2 linked regions of the Homo sapiens genome follow. The protein of the gene in region 1 purifies or fractionates together with the protein of each later gene. This does not show direct contact. Each region holds a gene or a part of one and is shown on either strand. Other genes may lie near its edges. The genes, in order: MPG and CAPZA1.

Region 1 (12,250 bases):
TCAGGTGATCCGCCCGCCTCGGCCTCCCGAAGTGCTGGGATGACAGGCGTGAGCCACCGCGCCCGGCCCCACCCGGCCCTTTCTACCCCTTTAACCTAACCAGCCCTGCCCCGTCAGCGTAGCCAGAGCTCCCGAAACCCTGGCCTGGCCTGGAAGTGGCACCTCCTCGCTCAAATGCTGGCCCCACCTCAGTCCTCCTAGTGGTCCCCTGGCTGCTAGCGGACAGGGCTCTGCCGGCCCTCCAACCCCCCGTGCCCCAGCACTGCTCACCCTGGCTGGAGATGTTCATGCAGAAGTACATGCCGTAAATGATGTACACGTACAGGGTCCCCGGCTTCATGAACATGCCTCGGTTGCGGGGGGTCTGCCGGCCACCCCTTGAGTGGGCGGCTTCATCCTCTGGCCCCAGGTATGCCTCGGTCTCCACGATGCGGCCTCGGAGTTCTGTGCCATTAGGAAGTCGCCGGACTAGGACCTGTGGGCAGTCAGTTTCTGCTCAGGGCGGGAAGGGATGGGGGTCCACTCACCCTAACAGTGCCCAGCCTGGACCTCATCTCCCCAGCTCAGGGTGTGTCAGCCGCCCAGGTCTAGCCAGGGACCTTGCCCCGTCTCCATCCTGCCTCTTCTCTTGCTCCTGCTGAGGCTGAATGTGGCTATTGAGGGCACCAGTTGTCTCCTCCAGCCCTGCTAGACAACCAGACCGCAGGCCGAAGATACCTCAGGCCACAGCCAGGCTGGGCTGGGAACCGGCAGTCATGGATTCACCTTGCAGGTCAAGTCCTCTCAGCAGGACCCTCCATTCCCCAGATTCCTCCTTTCCCAAGTGCCCTTGAGAAAACCATCAGCATTTAGCACGAGGCCAGGCATCACGGAAGGCACAGGACCCCAAGGATGTCCCCACACCAGCTACCTGGGCAATCCCAGAGCCCGTGAAGTCCCCTAAACCTGGGCTGCTGAGGTGGCCACAAGGGACCCTCATACTCAGCTCCCACCCTCCGGCTTTCTGAGCAGTAGGCCCAGCTGCCCCACGGTGCCCCAGCCTGGACCATGGTCCTGGTAACGGCCAACAGTTGTGTCACTGCTCGGAGCCCCAGAGTTAACAGCAGAGCACTGGGGACCAACCACATCCCCTGCACCTCTCGTTTTTAGGCCAGATAGGTCAGCTGGACAGCCAGGCTACCTTCACCTCAGCCCACGAAGCCCTGTGGTGCCAAAGGCCATGGTCAGTATCACGGGCTGGGGAGGAGGGGCACTGGAGCTTAGATGCTCGCCGGGGGAGCATTCAGGAGGGCTTCCCGGAGATAGGGTGGTGGGAAGAAGGGGTCAGCGCGGGGAGCATTCAGGAGGGCTTCCCGGAGATAGGGTGGTGGGAAGAAGGGGCCAGCGTGGGGAGCATTCAGGAGGGCTTCCCGGAGGTAGGGTGGTGGGAAGAAGGGGCCAGCGTGGGGAGCATTCAGGAGGCCTTCCCGGAGGTAGGGTGGTGGGAAGAAGGGGCCAGCGTGGGGAGCATTCAGGAGGGCTTCCCGGAGATAGGGTGGTGGGAAGAAGGGGTCAGCGCGGGGAGCATTCAGGAGGGCTTCCTGGAGGTAGGGTGGTGGGAAGAAGGGGTCAGCGCGGGGAGCATTCAGGAGGCCTTCCCGGAGGTAGGGTGGTGGGAAGAAGGGGTCAGCGCCGGGAGCATTCAGGAGGCCTTCCCGGAGATAGGGTGGTGGGAAGAAGGGGTCAGCGCCGGGAGCATTCAGGAGGGCTTCCCGGAGGTAGGGTGGTGGGAAGAAGGGGTCAGTGTGGGGAGCATTCAGGAGGCCTTCCCGGAGATAGGGTGGTGGGAAGAAGGGGTCAGTGTGGGGAGCATTCAGGAGGCCTTCCCGGAGATAGGGTGGTGGGAAGAAGGGGTCAGTGTGGGGAGCATTCAGGAGGCCTTCCTGGAGATAGGGTGGTGGGAAGAAGGGGTCAGTGCCTGGGCGGGAAGCCCAGAAATCCTTAGGCATCCAGAGCCATGAGGACAGAAGTGAACAGGCCAGGCTTGGCCAGGCCATGTCCAGGGGAGAAAGGGTGGCCCTGTTCCATCTTCCCTGGAGCTTAGAGGGAATGCCCCTCCAGGGGCTTCACTCTGCACACTCCTGTGCCTCCATGGGGGCACACTGGGGGGGCCCAACTACCACTCTGGAGAGGAGGTTCCCACAGCCCTTTTCTCATTGTTTCCTTTTCCATCCCAAATTTCTGATCAGGATTTCACTGATACCATTTCCACCAGTGGCAGATACTGGGGCCTCTCACCCCTCCCCACCCCCATGGCCAACACACACCCCTCTTCCTTGTTGGCAGAGCCTCCTGGGGGAGACCACACCCTCCTCAGCCCAGAGAGTGGCCTGGGATTTCATGGCAACTCACTGCAGTGACCCTTTTAGGGATGAGTGCATGACCCAAGCCTGGCTGAGGGGTCTGCAAGGGCATCCACTAGGAGGTTATGGAGAGGGCAGAGGGCTGTCCCTGATCCAAGGGACACAGGGTGAGACACCCTCTTCTCTGCTGGACATCATCTTGTCCACCAATGGGCTCAAGTGGGCATGACTGTGGCCTGACAAGGATGCTGAATAGAGACAAACGTATTGTGGTCCCTGATGCCATGCTGCGCCCTTGCCCTGTTCCTACGACGCACCTGCCACACGTGCTGTTTTGTTGTATCACAAATGCCCATTGTATTTTTTTTTTATTTTTGAGACGGAGTCTCGCCCTGTCGCCCAGGCCGGAGTGCAATGGCGTGATCTCAGCTCTCTGCAACCTCTGCCTCCCGGGTTCAAGTGATTCTCCTGCCTCAGCCTCCCAAGTAGCTGAGATTAGAGGCGCCCGTCATCACACCCAGCTAATTTTTGTATTTTTAGTAGAGATGGGGTTTCACCATGTTGGTCAGGCTGGTCTCAAACTCCTGACCTCGTGATCCACCCACCTCCGCCTCCCAAAGTGCTGGGATTACCGGCATGAGCCACCACACCTGGCCACAAATGCCCATTACTTAAGGTGCTTTTAGAAGGATCCGCATGGGGACAGAATGTTCTCTGTTCTCCATGAGGTCGAGCCCACATTCTAGGGTCTGCTCCTTTAGCACCCAACTCCTGGCACTGGTATTTCTCTTCTGGTTCTTCTTGGTGATTATAACCTAAAAGTAGGCTCATTAAAGGACAAAGGGAAGGCCTTGGAGCCTCTGGAGAACCAGAAAGGCAGGCCTGGGGCTTTGGCATCGAGGACCACCGCCACCACCTCGCTCCCAACAGATCCAGCCAAGATGCCACGGCTGTGTGAGCATCTGCTCGTGGGGACAGGCTGCACCGTAGGCCCCACCAGGATGGGACCTGGGCAGTCCCTGCTTCTTACTCCAAGTCTGATTGGCAGAGCCCAGATCCTTGACCTACATTAAGCTGCAGGGGCCCTGGGAAGCCAGCACTGCACTGTGAGCCACTACAGCGGGAAGGGGCAGCCCGACACTGGCCACAGCCACAGTTCCCACGTGTGGAAAAACTGAGGTGGATTGCCGGTGAGGAAGGCTAACGGTGCAAGTGCTCCTGCCCTAGATGCCCAGAGCCGGGGGCAGACAGTGGCACCCCTGCTCCACCCTGGGCAAGCAGCACTGACAATCTCTACATTCTTCCCAGATGACCTCAGGCAACTGAGATGAAGCTAAGCAGGGACCAGTGTGAGCAAAGCCGCTAAATGCATGAGGACAAGGAGGACTAACTGAGGGCCAATCCAGCAGGCAGCGGACAGGGGTTCAGGGACAACTGCAGTGACAGGCACTTCAGGAGGGCCCTCGCTGCTATGTTCACATTACCTGTCCCAGAAATGCCCGGGCCAGGGGGACTGCCGGCTGGTCGAAGAACTCCAACCCCAGTCGGGTAAGGTGGCCCTTTGGGCTTGAGAAATAGATGCTGCGGTATGGGCCCGGAGTGGTGGGCGGTCCCAAGCAGCGCTCCCTGGGGCAAGGTGCCTGGGCTGCATCGGACGAGCTGTGTGGCTGCTCTGCAGGTGCCTGGGCTGCGTCGGACGAGCTGTGTGGCTGCCCTGCTCTAGCTGGTCGCTGCTTCTTTTGCCCCATCCGTCGGCAAAACTGTAATGGGAAAAAAAATAAATAAGCATCCGAATAGGAGACAGCTGTGTGGTAAGGTCAGGCTCAGGAAGTGCAAGGACTGGATCTGACCACCTGCTTTGGTTTCTTCATCTGCAAAGCGGGGGTGACCATCCTGTGGGTTGTTATGAGGCACAAACACCCTGACACACTCGAGGCCTCAGGAAATGATCACGTCTGACGATGGACGGCTGCTGCTGGGGGCAGGGTGGCTGCTCTGCCCCACATATGTGCGAGCTGCACGGCATGGGGGCCCAGGCTGCATGACCTGGGGAGCAGATGGGGGCCTGAGCCTGGGACAGCAGGGCTGGTGCCCTCCGATTCCCACTCATCATGCAGGTCCCAAGCAAACGTCTGAGCTGGTTTCTGGAGCCCTGCCCTTTCATCCAACCCTTGCCAGAATTCAAAACACAGGATCTTAGCAGGGCCAAGGTCGGACACACAGGGAGGGGTGAGCACCGGGGTGACCACCGCGTGCTCAGGGTCCCTAACTGTCCTCTGCTTCATGGCCCAGGCTGGATAACGAGCAAGTGGGGCAAAGGCAAGGTCTCCTGAGGGACTAGGAGGGTCTGCTGAGACCGAGCAGGCCGCCAGCCTCCCACCTCTGGCCTCCCCATGGGTAGGGGGAACCTAACCACACATCCTCGGCTGTCCTGGGGCAAAGGAGAAGGGAAGATGAAGGTGGCGGGTGAGCGCCGGCCTGGCAGCACCCGGAGGGCTGGTCTTTAGCAGCACCTAAGTCCTCCTGGCATGGGAGAGATGCATTATTTTTAACGGGAGTGCTGACGTTAATGTAGAACGGAGACTGCCAGTCGGCCTGGAACGGACGCTGACGTGACCGTCTCCGCAGCTCGGCCCGCGCTGCCAGCGCGCCGTGGGTTCAGCCCCCGGGCGCTGCGGCCACTGCTCTCGGCCCGAGCTTGGCCCTTGGCCTATGCTCTGGCTCTGCCCCGAACCCTCGGGGCGGTGGGCGCTACGCCCGTCCCCGGCACTCCCGCTCCCGCGGCCGCGCTCGCTGCTGCGCCTGGGGGTGGGCGCGTCTGTTCCGCGGGGCGGCCGAGGCGCGCGCTCACCTGGGCCCCGCTGCGCGCGGGCATCCGGCGGCTCGGGCCGGGGCTTCGTGGGACTCGGACCCCGGCGCGGAGCCCAGCAGCCGCCGACCACGGAAGCACCCCTAGGACCGGGGCGGAGCGGCGCCTGCGCAGAAGGGGACGGAAGCCGGGAGAAGGGGGGCAGTGAGCGCCGGGAACTGGCTGCGCCCCCGGGGCGGGGCGGGCCACGTGGAGGTGGATCCTCTTCCCAGCGCCCACCGCCAGGTCCGGACCGATTCCCGGGCCCGATGCGGTGCCTGCGAGGCGAGAGCGGGGAAGGGGCACCTGGGGGTGGGGCGAGCCCCGCACTGTGCCCCGGCGCCCCTCCCAATGAGCTGTCCGCCCCCGCCTGCGCCCTGGTCGCCTGGCGGCCCCAGAGCCCACTCCACCAGCCGGTGGTCAGACCACCGAGAGGACGGGCCCGTCGTGAACCTGAGTGGATCCTCGAGGGGCCCGGGCGGAGTGGTCGTGCTTTGGGGGAGGGGGCGGGCCGCAGACGTGTTTTCCGGTGGGGTGCCAGCGGAGTGAGCGCCTGGGAGGCCGCCCCAGCCCTGGTCCGGAGTGGGCCGGGGAGTCCTTATCCAGGAAGTGGACGCCAGGCTTGTGCGGAGGCCCCCGCCCCTGGCCGGGGTTGTCACAGGCTGGTCGGGGGAAGGAAGGAGGGAGCGGCGCGGATTCTGCCTCTGCAGCAGAGCCCCCATCCCTCTTTCCGCCCAGGGATGCTGAAGGGAGCTCGCCCACGTTCTGGGTTGGGCCTGCTGGAGCGCAGGCAGCCTCCTCTAGAGGCCGAGGCCAGACCAGGGCTGAACACGGCCCGGCAGTGCGCAGCCGTCCTACGCTTCTGAGGCCTCCCCGACGGCCCAGCGCCTGTAAGCTCTCACAACCTCTCAAGTCAGATCCATGCCCCTAGGGAGGGGCAGGGACGGTGCTTGGCCCAGTGGACGGAAGGGCCTAGGGGACGGGCCCTGAGGGAGCTGGGCACACTGCTGGCTCCCACGGCCCATGGCAGCCCCAGCACCCAGCAGAGCCATCCCCCGCTTCTGGCCACTTGAAGGTTTATCTGGGTCTGCAGGGCCCCTCCACTGTGGCAGGCACAATCCCACCCCACAACCCACCTCTGCCGCACAAAAACCCTCGAGGGGCTTTTCCTGAGCTTTGACTTCTGTGACCCTGGTCCTGGAAAGGAGCACCTGAAAAGGCCTTGAAGAGCAACTGGGCACCTGGCCGCGTCAGGTGGGAGACGCTGGGCAGGACAGACGCACAGGCCATGTGTCTGGAGCCCTCAGATGAGTGTGACACCTGGTCCTACAGAAAGGCTAACAGGGCAGGACCTGGTCTCCAACTGCCTCTCCTCCTCTGACCAGCCGTCCCACCCCCATGGGCCCCAGCCAGGACTTCCTGGGGAGGGAGGGGCCATCAGCCGGCTGGAAGCCACCAGCTGTTTGTAGCACTGTGTGCCGCTTCCCGGGGTGGGGGCATAATGTGTCATCAATCCGTGTTTATAAAGCAGCCCTGGATGTGATTCCACACCCTCCCTGCTTATCTGCAGCCATGCCTCCCAAACAATGAGTCTCTCCTTCCTGTGGGAACAGCCCCCCATCCCCCCGAGTGCTCCCCCTCAGTCTAGTAGGGAAACTGAGGCCCCAGTTGAGCCTTTGTCCTCTTGATGGGCAGGGAGAGGATGGGTGTTACTTTGTACTTATATTTATTCTGATGTTACAAGTGATACATGGTCCTTGCAGAACTCACGGGGAGTCCAGAGGCTCCCAGAGGGGTGTTTTTATCCCCACCTTTCTTATGAGGAAAGAGAATCACTTGGAGAGCAGATTGGCCCCTGCCCCAGGAGGTGGAGAGGCCGGCACCGGGGCGCCAGCAACCAACTTCTCCAGATGTTCTGGACTGAGTGCTGGGGGTTGCGCAATCTCTGGGCACTCCCCCCCCCCACTTCCTGGTTTGTGGTCTCATGCTCCCACCACAGGCTGGAAGCGGTGGGATGAGAGTTCCAACTGTGGCCTGCAGAGTGGGCTGGCGGGCTGGTCCAGGACAAGAGAAAGTGGTGCCAGGTGAGAGGAGGGGGCCTGGGGCTTCCTCTGTCCCCAGTTTGTCCCACTGCTGGGCTGGAACAGGCTTGTTGGAGGAGGCAAGGATATCAGTGGAAGATGGAGATGAGAACACCCTTGAGGCTTTGAAAGGAGTGAAGGCTAGTATTGGTGCTGGGGTGAGCAGCCCTGACCCCCGACCTCCACAATAGGCCACAGGCTGTGGAGGGGCTGGAGCTGCCTCCAGCTGTAGGAGGTGTGGCCATCAGTCGCTGGAGCCTTTATAAACAAGTCTTTGAGAGATGTGGCTGTATTGGCTACAGGGGCCAGGGTTCTAGTATCAGCCTTATGACCCCAGGGTGCCCAGCACACTGGCTCCGTCTTCTCTCTGATGGAGGGGGGTGCTGACAGCTGTTGAGGTGGGTGTCAGGTCAGAGCCCATGGACTCCTCTACACAGCTTTGAGCTGGCAGCTTCCCAGCAGGGTGGCTGCTGGCCTCTTGACTGGTCTCTGCGGCCATCTGTGTCTGATGAGCCCTGGAGGGCCAAAGCTTCCTTGGGCAGAGAAGGCAGCCACTGGGCAGGCCGAGGTTGGGTGTGTGTGAGCTACATCCTCCCTGCCTGGGGCTGTGCTGCCAGGCCCTGGGCCCAGGTGCTTATGGGAACCCCTTGCCAAACCCTGGGATATGGGGAGGGGGCAGCTGCCTCAGAAATAGCCTATGACTTCAGGCCACTGGCTGGCCTGGCCCCCTTCTGCCTCTTCCCCAAATAGCCAGGAGCTGGTCATGGGCCCATCCCTGGAGCCCTGCTCCCCGGGCGGTTTCTTCTGATCCTTCCAGGGACTCCCCAAAGCCCAGGGTCTGACCCCTTGGGTGATTACTTGTGGCCTAGAAGCTGAGCTGAGGATTCTGGGGTAGCAGAGGATTCTGGGGTAGCTGTTGGGAACACTCCTCTTACTGGTCAGGGCTCCCATTCCCTCGTGTCCTGGTGTGAGGGCCACAAACCCTGGGTTTGGTCTAGACCCTAACCCTAACCCATTCTCAGACGCCTGCCCACCAGCCCCGGGAGTGCTGGGCAACTGCAGCTGATTTCCATTTCTCCAGGGTGCATGACGCGGGAAGAGAGGGGCCGGGAGCTGGGTTTCCGTATAGGGGGCTCCTCCACCAGGACAGAGAGTAGTAGGGCAGGCAGGAGGCAGAGCACACATATGTGCACACACTTGTCTATGTGGACTGGGTACAATCCTGAGTTTCGTGCGCGTCCGTGTGAAGAGACCACCAAGCAGGCTTTGTGTGAGCAACAAGGCTGTTTATTTCACCTGGGTGCAGGCGGGCTGAGTCCGAAGAAAAGAGAGTCAGGGAAGGGAGATGGGGTGGGACCGTTTTATAGGGTTTGGGCGGGCAGTGGAAAATTACAGTCAAAGGGGGTTGTTCTGTGGCGGGGAGGAGTGGGGGTCACAAGGTGCCTCAGTGGGGGAGCTTCTGAGCCAGGAGAAGGAATTTCACAAGGTAATGTCATCAGTTAAGGCAGGAACCGGCCATTTTCACTTCTTTTGTGATTCTTCACTTGCTTCATCTGGATGTATACGTGCAGGCTTGGGCTCAGAGGCCTGACACTGAGCACACGTGTATCGACCCCCCTCTGATCATCCTTCTGATGACCTCACTCAGGAGGCCAGGGTGGGCTGAGAGCCTGGGGATTCCTGGACACAGGCTCTGAGCTGGGGATTTGCCTGCAGAGGCAGACTGGGGCATGCTCCCCACTGAAGGTGACTCCTGGGTGCGGGGGGTTTCAGCTCTGAGCCAGCTGTGACTGGTGCTCCTGGCAGCTGGCGATGAGTGTCTGGGTCTTGGAGCGGGTCTAGGTGGGGTCTGACAGAGTCCACTGCAGGAGGAGACCTGCTGACACCAGATGCCCAGCTGTGGCATGCTTTGGAGGCAAGCCCAGTCCCCAGCTTTCCAGAGAGGACACCACTTCTGGCCCTGCCAGCCTAGTCTGGGCATCCAGGCCCGATAGGGCTTGCTTATCCCTGGCAGGTCAATAATGCTAAGCATGGAGACTGTCCTGTCTCTGGCTGTGAGCCTGGCATGGGAGGGGTGGCACGTGCAGGCTATCGGAGCACTGAGTGTTGGCACTGGGGCAGGCTCCCTCTCACCCGGTGTCCGTGATGCACTGGCAGTCATCCCCTGGTGGAGTTACCCTCCACCCCCTCCAAAGCTTCCATTGTCTCCTTCTACATGAGAATTGTGTTGATATTGCTTGTGTTCAGAGAGCACCCATTATGTGCAGGCACCGCCCTATCCCGTGGCATGGACAAGGATATGGGCAGGGGAATCTTGCCCAGGCTCTGGGATCTACCGGTAAGTGTACCAGCACCTTTAGTTCAAATTCTCCCCTTTTCTGTCTAGCCAAGGAGCAGGCCATTGTCTGCGTCGGGCCCTCAAGTGCAACAGCTCAGTTTGGAGAGGGCTGGTGCCACCCAGACCCAGAGGATGGCACTGAAGCAGCAGCACCTTGTGACCAGCACAGGGCCTGAAGACACATTTGTCCGAGGCATGGGGGGGCACCCTGTAGAGGGGTCCTTAGGGACCCATGGGACGAAGGGATCCCTGCACCCTCTATCCAGAGGAAGCCTTGGCCACCCACCACTCAGAGCTCCTGGACAGCCCTGCCCGTACTCTGCTGTTGGCACCCCTGTCCCCCACCCTGGGAGGGTCAGCCCACCCAGTGTCAGGAGAGAAATGCTGGGAAACTCTCACCAGCAGCCCCAGCGGAAAGCAGAGTGCCATTTTGAGTCCAGCCCAGATTGTGCAGGGATATGAGCCCACCCCGGGGTGGCCGCTGAGCTCTGAGACAGTGAGAAGAGCCCAGAGTGGACACCAGACACTGCGCTGCCTCTGCTGAGTGGCTTCGGGTGGGGCCGGTGCAGCCTGGCCTGAGTGCCTGCTGGTGGAGCGGGGCTTCTGGGGGTAGGGGCACAGGGCAGGGGGAGGGGTAATGACTGTGGTCCTGAACTGAGTGTGTGCATCGGTGTGTACACGTGTGTGTGTGCACGTGTATGTACCCATGAAAGATGTACATGAGTAGGTGGGTGCATGTGAGCACGTGCATGTGCAGGCGAATGAACGCATGAAGTGGAAGGATGTGGGGACGTGTGTGTATGATTGTGAGTGATCGGTGCACATGAATGTGTGTGAGGGAATGTGAGTGCTTAGTGGGATTGGGTGAGTGTGGGATACAGGACTTGTCAGCGTGGGCCTCTGGAGGAGGTCGGGTTTAGGGGAGCCAGGGATACACACCCATCCTCCGCCCTTTACCCCGTGCCTGCTCTCCCTCCTCACCCTCTTCTCAGCACAAATCAGGGCAGGACAGCTCAAGCCTCAATCTGGAGCCAGGGAGAGGCGGAGCCGCCCAGCGCTGACACTGCGGTCCGCTCCCACCAGGTCCTCCGTCGGGCCGAGGCGCTGGAGACCCCAGCCCCAGGTGTCCCCGCAGGCGGACCCTGGGGAGAAGGGAGCCCGGCGGCCTTCCGGGAGGAGGTGACTTGGGCCGGGCAGGCGGGCGGCGCGCATTCCTGAGCTCTGAGTCAGCGCGACCGCCCCGCTCCGGCCGGGCCCGCCCCCGGGCGCACGCCCCTCGCTCCAGGGCATTCCCGGGCGGGCCGGACCGGCGGGCGGGCGGGGACTCGGCGCGGGCCCTCCCGGCCAGCGGCGGCAGCCTCCTCCCCGGCGCCCTCAGGACCCCCCAGAGCCCCCGGCGGCGGCAGTGAGTGAGCGCGGCCGGGAGCGCAGGGCTCCGGGGGCGGGCGGGTTCCGGGGCTGCGTCCGGAGGGCGGGGCGAGTCCTCAGCACCCGGGGCCGGAGCTGCTCAGAGCGGCCGGGGCCGTGTCGGGGCCGGGGCCGGGGCCGGGGAGGGGTCGCGGCGAGGCCCCCCCGGGGCGGCCGGGCTTTTCTTCCTGGAGTTTCCCGAGTCGCCCGCGGAGGCGGCCCAGCCCCGGATTCCTAGCCCGGCGCGCCGCAAAAATAGCCCGTGGCCGGATTAGCAGCCCCAGCGGCCTGGCCGGGCGGGACAGCTCGGCTCCAGCCCCCGCCCAACAGCTGAGGGTCCCAGGAGCGGGAGTCTAGAGTCCGGGGGTGCCCCAGGTTCCTCTGAACTCCCCCCGCTGCATTTTCCTTCCCGGCCACGACCGGCGGGTGGTGTCTCCGAGCTGAAACTCCAGCCCAGGGCGGGATGGTCCCTGTCCCGGCTGCCCTCACCGATGGGAATAGCAGGAGCCGTGGAGCTGGGGGTGGGGGACTGACTCCGCCTTCTGCCCCACGACACTGACTCCCCCATCTGTACACTTCGAAGCTCCAGGGTGGGCTGGGAGCGACTCCCGAAGACAGACTCTCACTCTGTGCGCAGAGGCCAACGGGGACAGGCCTTCTCCCGGCTGGGGTGACAGCCAGACCCCAGATGCTCAGGGCATTGGCAGAGGGCCTGGTTGTCTGTCATGCTGGGGGCATGTTTGTGGGGCTGGGCGGGGAATGGGCAGGGGATCTTCCCTGGCCCCCCAGGGCCTGCTTCCGACCGAGGTGGTCCTGACCAGAGTTTCTTCTGTGTGTGCCGCTTGAGATGGTGAATGTGTGTGTCTGTCCCGGTGGGTGGGGCCTAGGTCTGGAGGCCCTTCTCCTATCCTGGGAACTCCCACCCGCCAACGGGACTTCCTGTTGGAGACCGGGAGAAGATTCAAGGATGAAACTGGCTTTTCAGGTTTGACCCAGCTAGATGCCTGGGCAGTCCCAGGCTCGGTTCTCCTCACCCCTGTGGAGCTAACCCCAACCTCCTAGCCCCGACCCCAAGGGTGGGCAGAAGCTGGGGACCAAGCAGCTGGCTGGGGCTCAAGGGGTCCCTGAGGCGGAGCCCCCTGCCACCAGGGGTCATTCTGGGCAAGCCGGGCCCCTTTTCCTGAGAATGGGGCAGGGGCAAATGGAGTGCATGGGAGTCTGGTGGTGCCAGATT
Region 2 (12,112 bases), on another chromosome or scaffold:
TCCTTGAGTAACTATTACAATTGAGAGAGCGACTAAGAAGGACATTTGTCTAAAGTCATAATCAATATTGTGAGTCAAAAACTGTGAACTAATATATGCTGGTTGGTGATAAGAGGCACTAACAGAAGTGGCCAAAATCAAAACATTAAAAGCAAACTGAATTTCTACTGGCAGAATCAGCACTCAGGATCAAAACTAATTTTTTAAAGAAAAACGAGACATGAGTAAGACAGACACTAAATATTCCATACTCACCGAAACAGTTAGTGAATCCTGTACATCTTTATGACTAACCAACTGAACATTGCCATCTTCATAATAGTGAACCTGTGTGAGACAATGTTTGAGCCTTTTTAGGGGAAGTTCATAGAGAAACCTGTTATTTAGGACACAAATCCATGCTTTAAGCTATCTTTAAGTTGATGAGCCATTTTACCAACTCTGAACAAATAATTAATATAAGCAGTGGTAATTCACAATGGTGGTTAATTAATCCACAGAACACTTAAGTTTAAGAACGCTTTTTCCTTAGCAAGGAAAACTGATTATTAAGTTCAAGAAACATTTATTACATGCTTTTCACATTCTAAGCACTGTGCTAGGCATTGTGAATACAAAGGTAAATGAGATCCCACTCTTAACAATATTAAAATAATTAAAGTTATTAAACATTAGTTTTTCTCTGTGAAAACCAAGGAATTTTAATGGATCCTCATACCTAATATTTGGCACATTTCTCCATATACATTATCATCAATGTTGGTAAGCAGAACTGACCAGGTACAGGAAAAGTCACATTGAGGGTTAAAGACAGGACAGAAAAACAAATATTTTATTGGTAAATCAGATATTTTTAAAAAGTAAGATAAAAGTAGTTCTGAATATGTAAGGTAAAGTGAAGTGCTACAATTATGCAAACAATTAGCAAAAAGGAGAAGAGACTAACAAGTCAATGACATTTTAGGTTAAGTTTTGGCAACTTAAGATAGGTTTAGTCACCTTGACAAGGCTACTAATTGGTCATACACAATAGGATGAGGGTATCCTTTTGTGCATTTGAATAGGATCTTGAAAACAGTAGTTGTCACCTAAGTAGACAGGTAGAGAATGACATCTACACCAAGGAGATAAAAAAGTATAACAGAATGGAGTATAACTGGTTTAATTTGGAGAAGAACAAAGAACTCACTGCATATGAATATGTGTAAAAAAGGAGTGTGGCAGGAGACATTGCTATGAAGTGGAAACACAGACTGTGAAGAACAAAGCACCTTATAAACCATGTTAAGAATTCAGACTACTCAGGAGGCTAAGACGGGAGGATCACTTGAGGCCAGAAGTTTAAGACCAGCCTGGGCAATATAGCAAGATCCCCATCTTAGGGAAAAAAAAGAATGCAGATGTTATCCTATTATAGGTGACACACGGGAAAAGGAATGTTTTAGAAAGATTATACTTGTGCTATGAAGAAAATAAAACGAAGGAGCTGCTATTGGAGACATAATGCCAGAACAATAGTCCAGGTAATGCCATTTATCTAGTGCTATGATTTTAATGTTGGTACCTTCCCAAAATTCTTATGTTGGACCAATATGCAATGGGATAATATTAAGAGGAGGGGCCTTTGGGAGGTGATTAGGTCATGAGGATGAAGCCTTCAAGGGATTAGTGCCGTTCTAAAAGAGGCTCAATCAAGCTCTCTTGCCACTCTTCTACCTCATGAGGACAGTGTTCACCCCTTCTGTCACGTGAGAATGCAGAAGGTGTCACCTATGAGAAACAGAACTCACCAGTCACTGAATCTAACAGCACCTTGATCTTGGACTTCTTAGTCTCCAGAAGTATGAGGAATAAATTTCTGCTAAGGTATTTCTGCTAAGGTATACCAGTCTAAGGTATTGTGTTATAATAGCTGAAACAAGGCCGGGCGCGGTGGTTTATGCCTGTAATCCTAGCACTTTGGGAGGCCAAGGCGGGCGGATCACTTGAGGTCAGGAGTTCGAAACCAGCCTGGCCAACACGGCGAAACCCCATCTCTACTAAAAATACAAAAAAAATTAGCCAGGTGTAGTGGCAGGCATCTGTAATCCCAGCTACTTGGGAGGCTGAGGCAGGAGAATTGCTTGAACCCAGGAGGCGGAGGTTGCAGTGAGCCAAGATCATGCCACTGCATTCCAGCCTGGGTGACAGAGTAAGACTCTGTCTCAAAAAAAAAAAAAAAACACAAAAAAACCCCAAACAAAGACATCTAGTCTATGCTACCAGGAGATATGTGAACAAAACAGAATGTTTTGAGGGATAAAGCAGAAAAGGAAAAGAGAAGAACAGTAATCTTCACTTACTTCATCTCACTTACTCAGTAATCTTAGCTGTAGGAGCTATTATTTATTAAGCCTTTACTATGTGTTAGACACTGTGCAAACACTTCACTATTACTTATATTCCCTCATTTAATCCTTTTTTTTGAGACAGAGTCTTGTTCTTGTCGCCCAGGCTGGAGTGCAATGGCACGATCTCGGCTCACTGCAACCTCCGATTCCCCGCTTTAAGTGATTCTCCTGCCTCAGACTCCCAAGTAGCTGGGATTACAGGCACCCGCAACCACGCCCGGCTAACTTTTGTATTTTTAGTAGAGACGAGGTTTCACCATGTTGGCCAGGCTGGTCTCGAACTCCTGACCTTGTGATCCACCCACCTCGGTCTCCCAAAAGTACTGGGATTACAGTCATGAGCCACTGCGCTAGGCCACCACATTTAATCTTTACAAAAACTCTTATGAGATGAGGACTACGACTAACCCTATTTTACAGCTGAGGAAACTGAAGTTTGCCTTGAGGCAGTTATTAAACAATAACTTATCCATGTTCACACACCTAGTAAGAGGAGGAGCTAGGATTTGAATTAGGTCAAATTCCAGAGCTATCCAACATATGTAATACCTCCCAATGCTATGTTTTGTCAAAAAGTTAGAAATTCCTTGATCTGGGGAGAAATAGTGTCTCAGCAGGGGCTTACTCTTTGTGGATATCATTAGAAGGGCATAACTAACAGTCAAGCTTCATCTAGGCAGAAAGCTATTTGCAACAAAAAGACTTTCCTGGATAACAAGAACCCCCTACCTATCCTTGTTTAAAGGACAAAAATAAGTATCTTTTTTTTTTTTTTTTTTTGAGACAGTGTCACGCTCTGTCGCCCAAGCTGGAGCACAGTGGCTGATGTCGGCTCACTGCAACCTCTGCCTCCTGGGTTCAAGCAATTCTCCTGCCTCAGCCTCCCACGTAGCTGGGACTACAGGTGCGTGCCACCATGGCCAGCTAATTTTTGTATTTTTAACAGAGATGGGGTTTCACTGTGTTGCCCAGGCTGGTCTCGATCTCTTGACCTCATGATCCCCCTGCTTTGGCTTCCCAAAGTGCTGGGATTACAGGCGTGAGCCACCGTGCCCGGCAAGTATCTTCTTGAATGAGGACAAACAGCTGGCTCTATCCAGATGGGCATGAGAAGCTAGACTTTCCATACCCTCTCTAAACCCTGAAATTTTACCTTTTGGCTTTCTAAGAGGTTAAAGAAGAAAAGACAATATAAGAATCTACTGAGAACAGGCATGGTGGCTCACACATTTAATCCCAGCACTTTGGGAGGCCGAGGTGGGCAGATCACTTGAGGTCAGGAGTTCGAGACCAGCCTGACCAACATGGTGAAACCCTGTCTCTACTAAAAATACAAAAAAAATTAGGCAGGCATGGTGGCAGGTGCCTGTAATCCCAGCTACTTGGGAGGCTGAGACAGGAGAATCACTTGAAGCCAGGAGGCAGAGGCTGCAGTGAACTGAGATTGCACCACTGCACTCCAGCCTGGGTGACAGAGAGAGACTGGAATCCACTGGAGACAAGATGAGAATCCAATGGAAAAGAAGGGTGATAATAAGAACCACTAATACTTACATGTAAAATCAGAACAGCAAAGATGTGGGCAAAAAAGACTGGGCTAAATGATGATGACATATAAAGGTTAAAATCCCAATAGATAAGAATATTTAAAATACAAGTAGGTCACAATCAAATATCAGTTTTGTTTGTTTTTTCATTAAAAAAACTAGAGGTTCAGGGACTGAAAAGAACATTCAAAAGGGGAATGAGCCGGGTGCAGTGGCTCACGCCTGTAATCCCAGCACTTTGGGAGGCCAAGGTAGGCGCATCACGAGGTCAGGAGATCAAGATCATCCTGGCTAACACAGTGAAACCCGGTGTCTGCTAAAAATACAAAAAATTAGCTGGGCGTGGTGGCATGCGCCTGTACGCCCAGCTACTTGGGAGACTGAGGCAGGAGAATCGCTTGAACCCAGGAGGCGGACGTTGCAATGAGCCAAGGTCGTGTCACTGCACTCCAGCCTGGCGACAGAGCAAGACTCCATCTCAAAAAACAAAACAAAACAAAAAGGGGGCAGGGGGGAATTATTACAAACAGGATGGGAGATATTTAAAAAAACAACAACAGATCTGGCCATAGAAGAAACAAGAACTTCTGTATTTCTCAGAACTTGTCTAAAGAGAGGAGGTATGCAGAGCACATTCTTTTTGTTCGAGAATAAAGACTATACAATTAGTTTGAACTTCTGTTATGTTTTTTAATTAGGACATGGAAAGGAATATAGGGTAAGGTCAATAAGCCTCACTGTTTTTGATCTCAATGAAAAATTCTAGGGCCAGGCGCAGTGGCTCACGCCTGTAATCCCAGCATTTTGGGAAGCTGAGGGAGGCGGATCACAAGGTCAGGAGTTCGAGACCAGCCTGGCTAACACAGTGAAACCCTGTCTCTACTAAAAATACAAAAAATTAGCCAGGTATGGTGGCGGGCGCCTGTGGTACCAGCTACTCAGGAGGCTGAGGCAGGAGAATGGCATGAACCCGGGAGGTGGAGCTTGCAGTGAGCCGAGATCCTGCCACTGCACTCCATCCTGGGCAACAGAGCGAGACTCTGTCTCAAAAAAAAAAAAAAAAAAAAAGAAAAATTCTAAAAAATATTAATTTCATTACCTAATACACTAATGTTATTATAATTTTTAGAAATTAACCCAGCCTGGGCAATATAGTGAGACCCCGACTCTACAAAAAAATAAAAAAAGTTGGCCAGGTACAGTGGTATGTGCTTGTAGCACTAGGTGCTTGGGAGGATGAGGTGGGAGGATCATTTAGTTGAGGAGTTTGAGGTTGCAGTGAGCTATGAAAGCACCACTGCACTCCAGCCTAGGTGACAGAGTTGAGATACACCGTTTCAAGAAAGAAATTAAGCTCAAAACTTATGTGTTCTAAGACCTTTTCTAGGTCTCATCTGCTAATATGAAAATGGTTCAATTAACTAACACAAATTTCAACATGATTGTCATCAACATAAATCCTCAGAAATTGTTGCCTTCTCAGAACGATGTTTTTGCCTATAGACTAGCCTGAAAGGCTAAATATCTTAACGACTTTTCCAAATAATTCTCACTCCAAAATTTAAAAGATATGTAAATGAAATAAGCTTTCCCCAAAAGTGTGCTCAATCTGTGCTTAAAAAGGTTTAAATGTGGGTCTGTACACTGGGCTGTATTTTGAATCTTACCATAAATTATCACCCTTTGTGATGTGTGCTCTTATTTTATAGGTTTGCACTGGCAGAGCTAAAATACAAATGGCTGTTTCCATCTAGAAACAAAGTAAAATTTATTTACACAAAATTTACAATAAGCTTCTACAATGCTGATACCATGGTTCTAGGAAGTTAATGCTAATGCCACAGTTACAAGAGATCTAGAGCGCTAGGCTACTAAGATATTTTGTTAACAGAAACAGAACAGTATGCTGTCTTAGGTTGCACCTTCCCAGAAGGAGACCCCAAGACAAAGATTAGAGAAAAAGTAGTTTATTCAGGAGCGAATCTCACAAAGCTACAGTAGGGGACAGAAGAAGTGGGACACAGAAGGGAAGGAAGCCTTAGAGGTACGTTTATGAGCAGGTTACAGCTGTGGGTATTGGGCTCCGGAAGACTAAACAGAATGTGCTTGAAAGTTGTCCTACTTGAGGAAGCTGCCATATTTATCTACCAACTCTTACATATCACTGAGGGCTCCTCCTAGAGCTGTGAACTCAACACCAGCCTGTCTCACCTGAGTTGGGCATGCTCCTATGGCCAGGAGCTACTTGTTGCAGGAAGCTATAGGTATATATAAAAAGAGCAGATTTACTTTTACAGAATTTATTACCTATGCACTTGATTAAATTAGAGCATTAAAAAAGACAACTCTTGGCTGGGCACAGTGGCTCACCTGAGGTCAGGAGTTCAAGACCAGCCTGGCCAACATAGTGAAATCCCACCTCTACTAAAAATACAAAAATTAGCTGGGCGTGGTGGTGTGTGCCTGTAATCCCAGCTACTTGGGAGGCTGAGGCAAGAGAATTGCTTGAACTCAGGAGGCAGAGGTTGCAGTGAGCCAAGATTGCACCACTGCACTCCAGGCTGGGCGACAGAGCGAGACTCCTCCTTCTCCTCCTTCTCAAAAAAAAAAAAAAAAAAAAAAAAAGACAACTCTTGGTAATTGTTGTTAAAGCACAGCTTCACATAATATAATACAGGTACGATTAGGTACTGATCTTCTCGGTTACCTGTACCTATTCTGACCTTACAGTTAGTGAGGCTTAAATATTAAATCACCCTGAGTTTAGAAAGTCAAACCTCTGCTAGGATATTAAACTTCAATCCAGACAGGCATCAAATGAGTTAACAGCTATCTTATTCAGCTGCCTGTCTACCCTGACATCAGCATTAAAAATCTACTTCTGGGCCAGGTGCAGTGGCTCACGCCTGTAATCCCAGCATTTTGGGAGGCCGAGGCGGGTGGATCACCTGAGGTCAGGAGATCGAGACCAGCCTAACCAACATGGAGAAACCCCGCCTGTACTAAAAATAGAAAATTAGCTAGGCGTGATGGCGCATGCCTGTAATCCCAGCTACTCGGGAGGCCGAGGCAGGAGAATCACCTGAACCCAGGAGCCAGAGATTGCGAAGAGCCGAGATCATGCCATTGCACCTCCAGCCTGGGCAATAAGAGCAAAACTCCATCTCAAAAATCAATCAATCAGTCAATCAATCAATCAATCAATCAATCTACTTCTGCTTGGCTATTTATATTCCAAAACACCTGCCATTCTCTCTAGTTATAATTTTTAGGAATTAACCCAGCCTGGGCTGGGAGGTGGAGGTTGCAGTTAGCTGAGATCACGTCACTGCACTCCAGTCTGGGTGATGGAGTGAAACTCTGTCCCAAAAAATAATAATTATTATTATTATTAATTTTAAATCTTTCCTAAAACTGCTGTTTGATAATTCCTAGTTATATCTTATGTTACCATTGAAGGAAAAATAACAATAACCATGTTGCCATACACTCTACATGCTATCCTTTATCAACTCAGAATAGCTCTCTCTGTTTACCACCCCAAGAAGGAGGCTTCTATTTCTATTCACTGCCATCAGTCTCCCTTTGCATCTACACATACTTGGTCCTTATTTAATACCAAAGCAACCTGCACATGTTTTAAAGATGTGAAGTTTTAAGTCTATAAACATGTTGGAATCTCACCTGAATCTTAAGCACGCCAACCACCTGGGCTGTAGGTGGTGTGATGGTGAACTTCCACTCTGATCTCCAACGACCATTCCTATTAAAACACACACACAACATTGCAGAATTAGCAATAAGCACAAGAAAGAGGTGATTTGCCACTGAGGTACAGAAGTTGGGAAAGAGGGGTGCAAAAAAAGAAAAAAAAAAAGAGAGAGAGAGAAACTGTCATTTCCAGTTTGGCAAACCCAAAGCTCTGTCTACTCAAATGTAAGTCTGGATCTAAGTGGCCTGACCATAAGCCTTTTCTAAGTTATTTTGTCTTTCATTTTTCCTTTTTTCCCTTGAAATGGAAAACCATGCCTATTCTGCTCATGGGAGGCTCTTCCAAAATCAGATGAATAGGCTGCTGAGTTACACAATTAACTCAAGTAGCAGTAACCCTAAGCCAAGTAAAACTCAGATTTTCAACAGGGCACTTTACTAATCACTTGTTCTCACTCAAAATAAGAGTAACTTTTAAAGGAAAATATAATTATAAAACCTTAGAACTGTAAGGAATCTAAATCCCTCATTTATAGATGGAAAACTGAAGTCTGTAAGTTAAATAATTATTCCAAGCTAGTTGGATTAAAAACCAAGTCTCAACTGCTGGTTTCTTTCAGATGTAAATAGAAGAGAATATCTACTTCTTACCAGAAGTTTTTAGGCTGAAACTGGTGGCTTTCAATACATGCAATAATAGTCTGTTGCCCATCGATAGTTTTAGCATAAACCTATTGTTGGGAAAAAAAAATAGTTAAAGACTCCAAACACTTTTAATTTAAACAACATGCATTGTACAAAAGCAGAGTGTTAAATCCTTGGGGGAGACAAAGAATCACATAAAATGAGCTTAGAACACAATAGTGCACATGGGATATGAAAACAAAGCAGAACATGTTAGGTTCTACCAGAGACAGTGATACAATGAAAACAGAGGGAAATACTGCTCTTGGTTTGGGGTACAAGGCGGGTGCCATTTAGGCTGGGTCATACAAGACAGATGAGATTCTGATAAGCAGAGACTGAAAATAAAGGCAAGACAGGAAACTAAGGACTTGTTCAGTGAACAAGACTGTCAGGTTTAAAGGGTGTGTGTGAAGTGGACTAATGAAAGACAAAACAGGATGGTAGATTTAGGTCATGTAATAGTAGATGTAAAGTAAGAAGTTTAAGATTTTATTCTATAGGCAATGGAGAGACAGCAAAACATGACTAGAACTAATATTGTGGGAGAATAATCAATACTGGTATTCAAGATAAAACGAAGAAAAGCTGAAGCTTGGTTAGGAGGCCACAGGATTAATCTAGGCAACAAGTCAGAGTTATATTAATGGGAATGGAAAGGAAGAGTTGCACACAGAATGTAGAAGTACAATCAAAGTCTAGCAGTATATTGCAAATGATGGGCAAAGGAAAGAAGGAACTCAAGAGTGACTAAAAAGATGGTGGTGTCATTAACAAACTGGAAATTACAGATGGAGATGTCTAGTTAGTAGTTAGAAACACTAACTCTTCTTTAGTGTGGGAGAGGTGAATGGAAATGCAATCACCAAGGGAAAGTAAGAAAAAAAAAATAGCGCTTTATAGTCCACAAAATATGTTCTTACATGTATTTTCTTTTTCCTCTAATAAATCTGATGAAATACAGTGTTATCTACAGATAAGAAGTTGAAGTTCACAAAGCTTCTTGCCTAAGGTCACTCAGGAAGTGGTAAAGGTAGAATCCAAACCCACTGTTTTTGTGACACCGAAGTCTGTGTTACTTTACCTGCATTAAATGAATTATGAACTTTGGGGGAATGCCTACATTTACAAAGGTAGGGGAAAAAAAGAACTTAGTATAGAGTAAGAATAATTAGGGGGCTGGGTGCAATGGCTCAAGCCTGTAACCCCAGCACTTTGAGAGGCTGTGGCAGGGGGATTACCTGAGGTCAGGAGTTCAAGACCAGCCCGGCCAACATGGTGAAACCCCATCTCTACTAAAAATACAAAAATTAGCCAGGTGTGGTGGTGGGCACCTGTAATCCCAACTACTAGAGAGGCTGAGGCAGGAAAATCGCTTGAACCTGAGAGGCGGAGGTTGCAGTGAGCTGAGATCATGCCACTGTACGCCAGCCTGGGCAAAAAGAGCAAAACTCCATCTCTAAAAAAAAAAAAGAATTAGGGGTTGCTGACAGCAGCCTAAGTAAAAGATAATTTCTAGAAGTGGTTGATTGGCTTCAGTGTGAAATGCCATTCGGAAGTCATGGACAAGGAAAAGGACACTGGACCAGGTAACTCAGGAACCATTAGTAAACTCAGAGCAGTTTCTGTAGAATGGAGACTAAAGTAAAAAATTAAAGGGTTCAGAAGTAGATAGAGGAAATGGCATTAGCAGGCAAAGAATATGTACTGACGTGGTGGTGATGCAGAGAGAGATGAGAGAAGGGAAAAAGTGGAGAAGAGGGAGAAAGGGCAAGGTGGAAAGGGCAGACAAAGAAGGAGAAATAGGCCGGGCCTGGTGGCTCATGCCTTGTAGTCCCTACACACACACAACACACACAGAGAAAAATTAGATAGGTATGGTGGTGTGCACCTGTGGTCCTAGCTACTTGGGAAGCTGAGGCGAACGGATTACAAGGTCAGGAGTTCAAGACCAGCCTGGCCAACACAGTGAAACCCCGTCTCTACTAAAAATACAAAAATTAGCCAGGTGTGGTGGCAGGCGCCTGTAATTCCAGCTACTCAGGAGGCTGAGGCAGGAGAATCGCTTGAACCCAGGAAGGGGAGGTTGCAGTGAGCCGAGACCACACCATTGCACTCCAGCTTGGAAGACAGAGTGAGACTCTGTCTCAAAAAAAAAAAAAAAAAATTTCTGTCAGTTTCAATCCTTACAAAACATGGGGGATTAGATGCCTGTCAGAGGACAATGAAAAATGTTTGGAACATACTATGTAGAAAATGTGATAGGGAATAAGGAGATGAAATTACGGACTACTAAGCAGGTCAGCTGAAGACATAAGACATAGGATACTTATATACAGCAGACACCATCACAACAATTCCATGACTTTCTGTAGGTCATTTGATAGCTAAGGACACAGTAGGGTTATTTGGTGCTGGAGCTCTCCAAATTAAGAATGGGTAGTGACAAACTTTGAACAGGTAACAAACAATAAATTCAAAGTATATTTAGGATTAAACAGTCAATTTCTAAATGGGAGTCTATCATGTCTCCCCTTTGCAATACTGGCTTCCCAACAGGAATTCTATACTTGTCCAGTCCACCATAATGGGTATTCTCATTAAAAAAAAAAAAAAAAAAAAAAAAAATCAAACATAATGACACCTAGCCTAACATTCATCTAACATTTATGTAGAGCTTACTTTGTGCCAGGCACTGTTCCAGGCATATATTACATATATTACTAATTCATTAAATCTTCACAACAACTCTATGAGATAAAAACAATTATTTCCATTTTACAGTCAAAGAATTGAGGCACAGAGATGTTAAGTAATTTACCTAAGGTCACACAACTAATTAATTGGCAGGGCCAGGAATCAAACCAGTTAGTAAGGCTTCAAAGTAGGTGCTCTTAACTGTATTCTAGACTGCCATGTAATTCATCATCATTGTATATTTAAAATATTCTAGTGAAAATTGCTGATTTTCCCACAACAAAAAAATGATAAATATGTATAGAAATCCATGTTATTAGCTCAATATAGCCATTCCACAATGTATACATATTTCAAAATATCATGTTGTACATATCATATTTTTGTCAATTTAAAAATAAAAAATATTCTAATCAATATTTTTCTTAATATGCCATAATTTTATAAAGGAAAAATAATAAAGCCAAATTTATCTATTTTTACAGTCAAGAGGGAGTAAAAGAAAATTAGGCCAGGTGCAGCAGCTCACGCCTGTAATCCCAGCACTTTGGGAGTCCGAGGCAGCTGGATCACCTGATGTTAGGAGTTCGAGACCAGCCTGGCCAACATGGTGAAGCTCTGTCTCTACTAAAAATATAAAAATTAGCCAGGTGTGGTGGTGGGCACCCGTAATCCCAGCTACTCAGGAAGCTGAGGCAGGAGAATTGCTTGAACCCAGGAGATGGAGGTGACATTGAGCTGACACGGTGCCCCTGCATTCTAGCCTGGGTGACAGAGTAAGACTTAGTCTCAAAAAACAAAAGAACAACAACAACAACAGCAAAAACAACAACAAAAAGAAAATCACTCCTGATTAAAAAAAAATTGTTTGGTTTTTTTTGTTTTTTGTTTTTTTGAGACAGTGTCTCACTCTGTTGCCCAGGCTGGAATGCAGTGGTGTGGTCTCAGCTCACTGCAACCTCCACCTCCCTGGTTCAAGTGATTCTTGTGCCTCAGCCTCCTGAGTAGCTGAAACTACAGGTGTGCACCACCACATCCAGCTACTTTTTGTATTTTTTAAGTAAAGGTTTCACCATGTTGGCC

What was found.
Region 2: the proteins of MPG (region 1) and CAPZA1 purify together in Homo sapiens (affinity purification with mass spectrometry; 2 studies listed by BioGRID and IntAct, with this or other methods). This does not show direct contact.

Annotation. Positions count from the first base shown.
Region 1 is NC_000016.10:71,277-83,526, reverse strand, and holds the start of MPG (DNA-3-methyladenine glycosylase), read right to left. Parts: upstream 5,303-12,250; 5' UTR 5,218-5,302; coding exon 5,194-5,217; intron 4,389-5,193; exon of another isoform or gene 4,235-4,388; coding exon of another isoform or gene 4,196-4,234; intron 4,103-4,195; coding exon 3,827-4,102; intron 476-3,826; coding exon 271-475; intron 1-270. Other genes in the region: RHBDF1 (inactive rhomboid protein 1), read left to right, coding at 11,864-12,001. UniProt on the Homo sapiens protein: Hydrolysis of the deoxyribose N-glycosidic bond to excise 3-methyladenine, and 7-methylguanine from the damaged DNA polymer formed by alkylation lesions.
Region 2 is NC_000001.11:112,655,289-112,667,400, reverse strand, and holds part of CAPZA1 (F-actin-capping protein subunit alpha-1), read right to left. Parts: intron 8,380-12,112; coding exon 8,300-8,379; intron 7,701-8,299; coding exon 7,622-7,700; intron 6,196-7,621; coding exon of another isoform or gene 6,166-6,195; exon of another isoform or gene 6,149-6,165; intron 328-6,148; coding exon 256-327; intron 1-255. UniProt on the Homo sapiens protein: F-actin-capping proteins bind in a Ca(2+)-independent manner to the fast growing ends of actin filaments (barbed end) thereby blocking the exchange of subunits at these ends.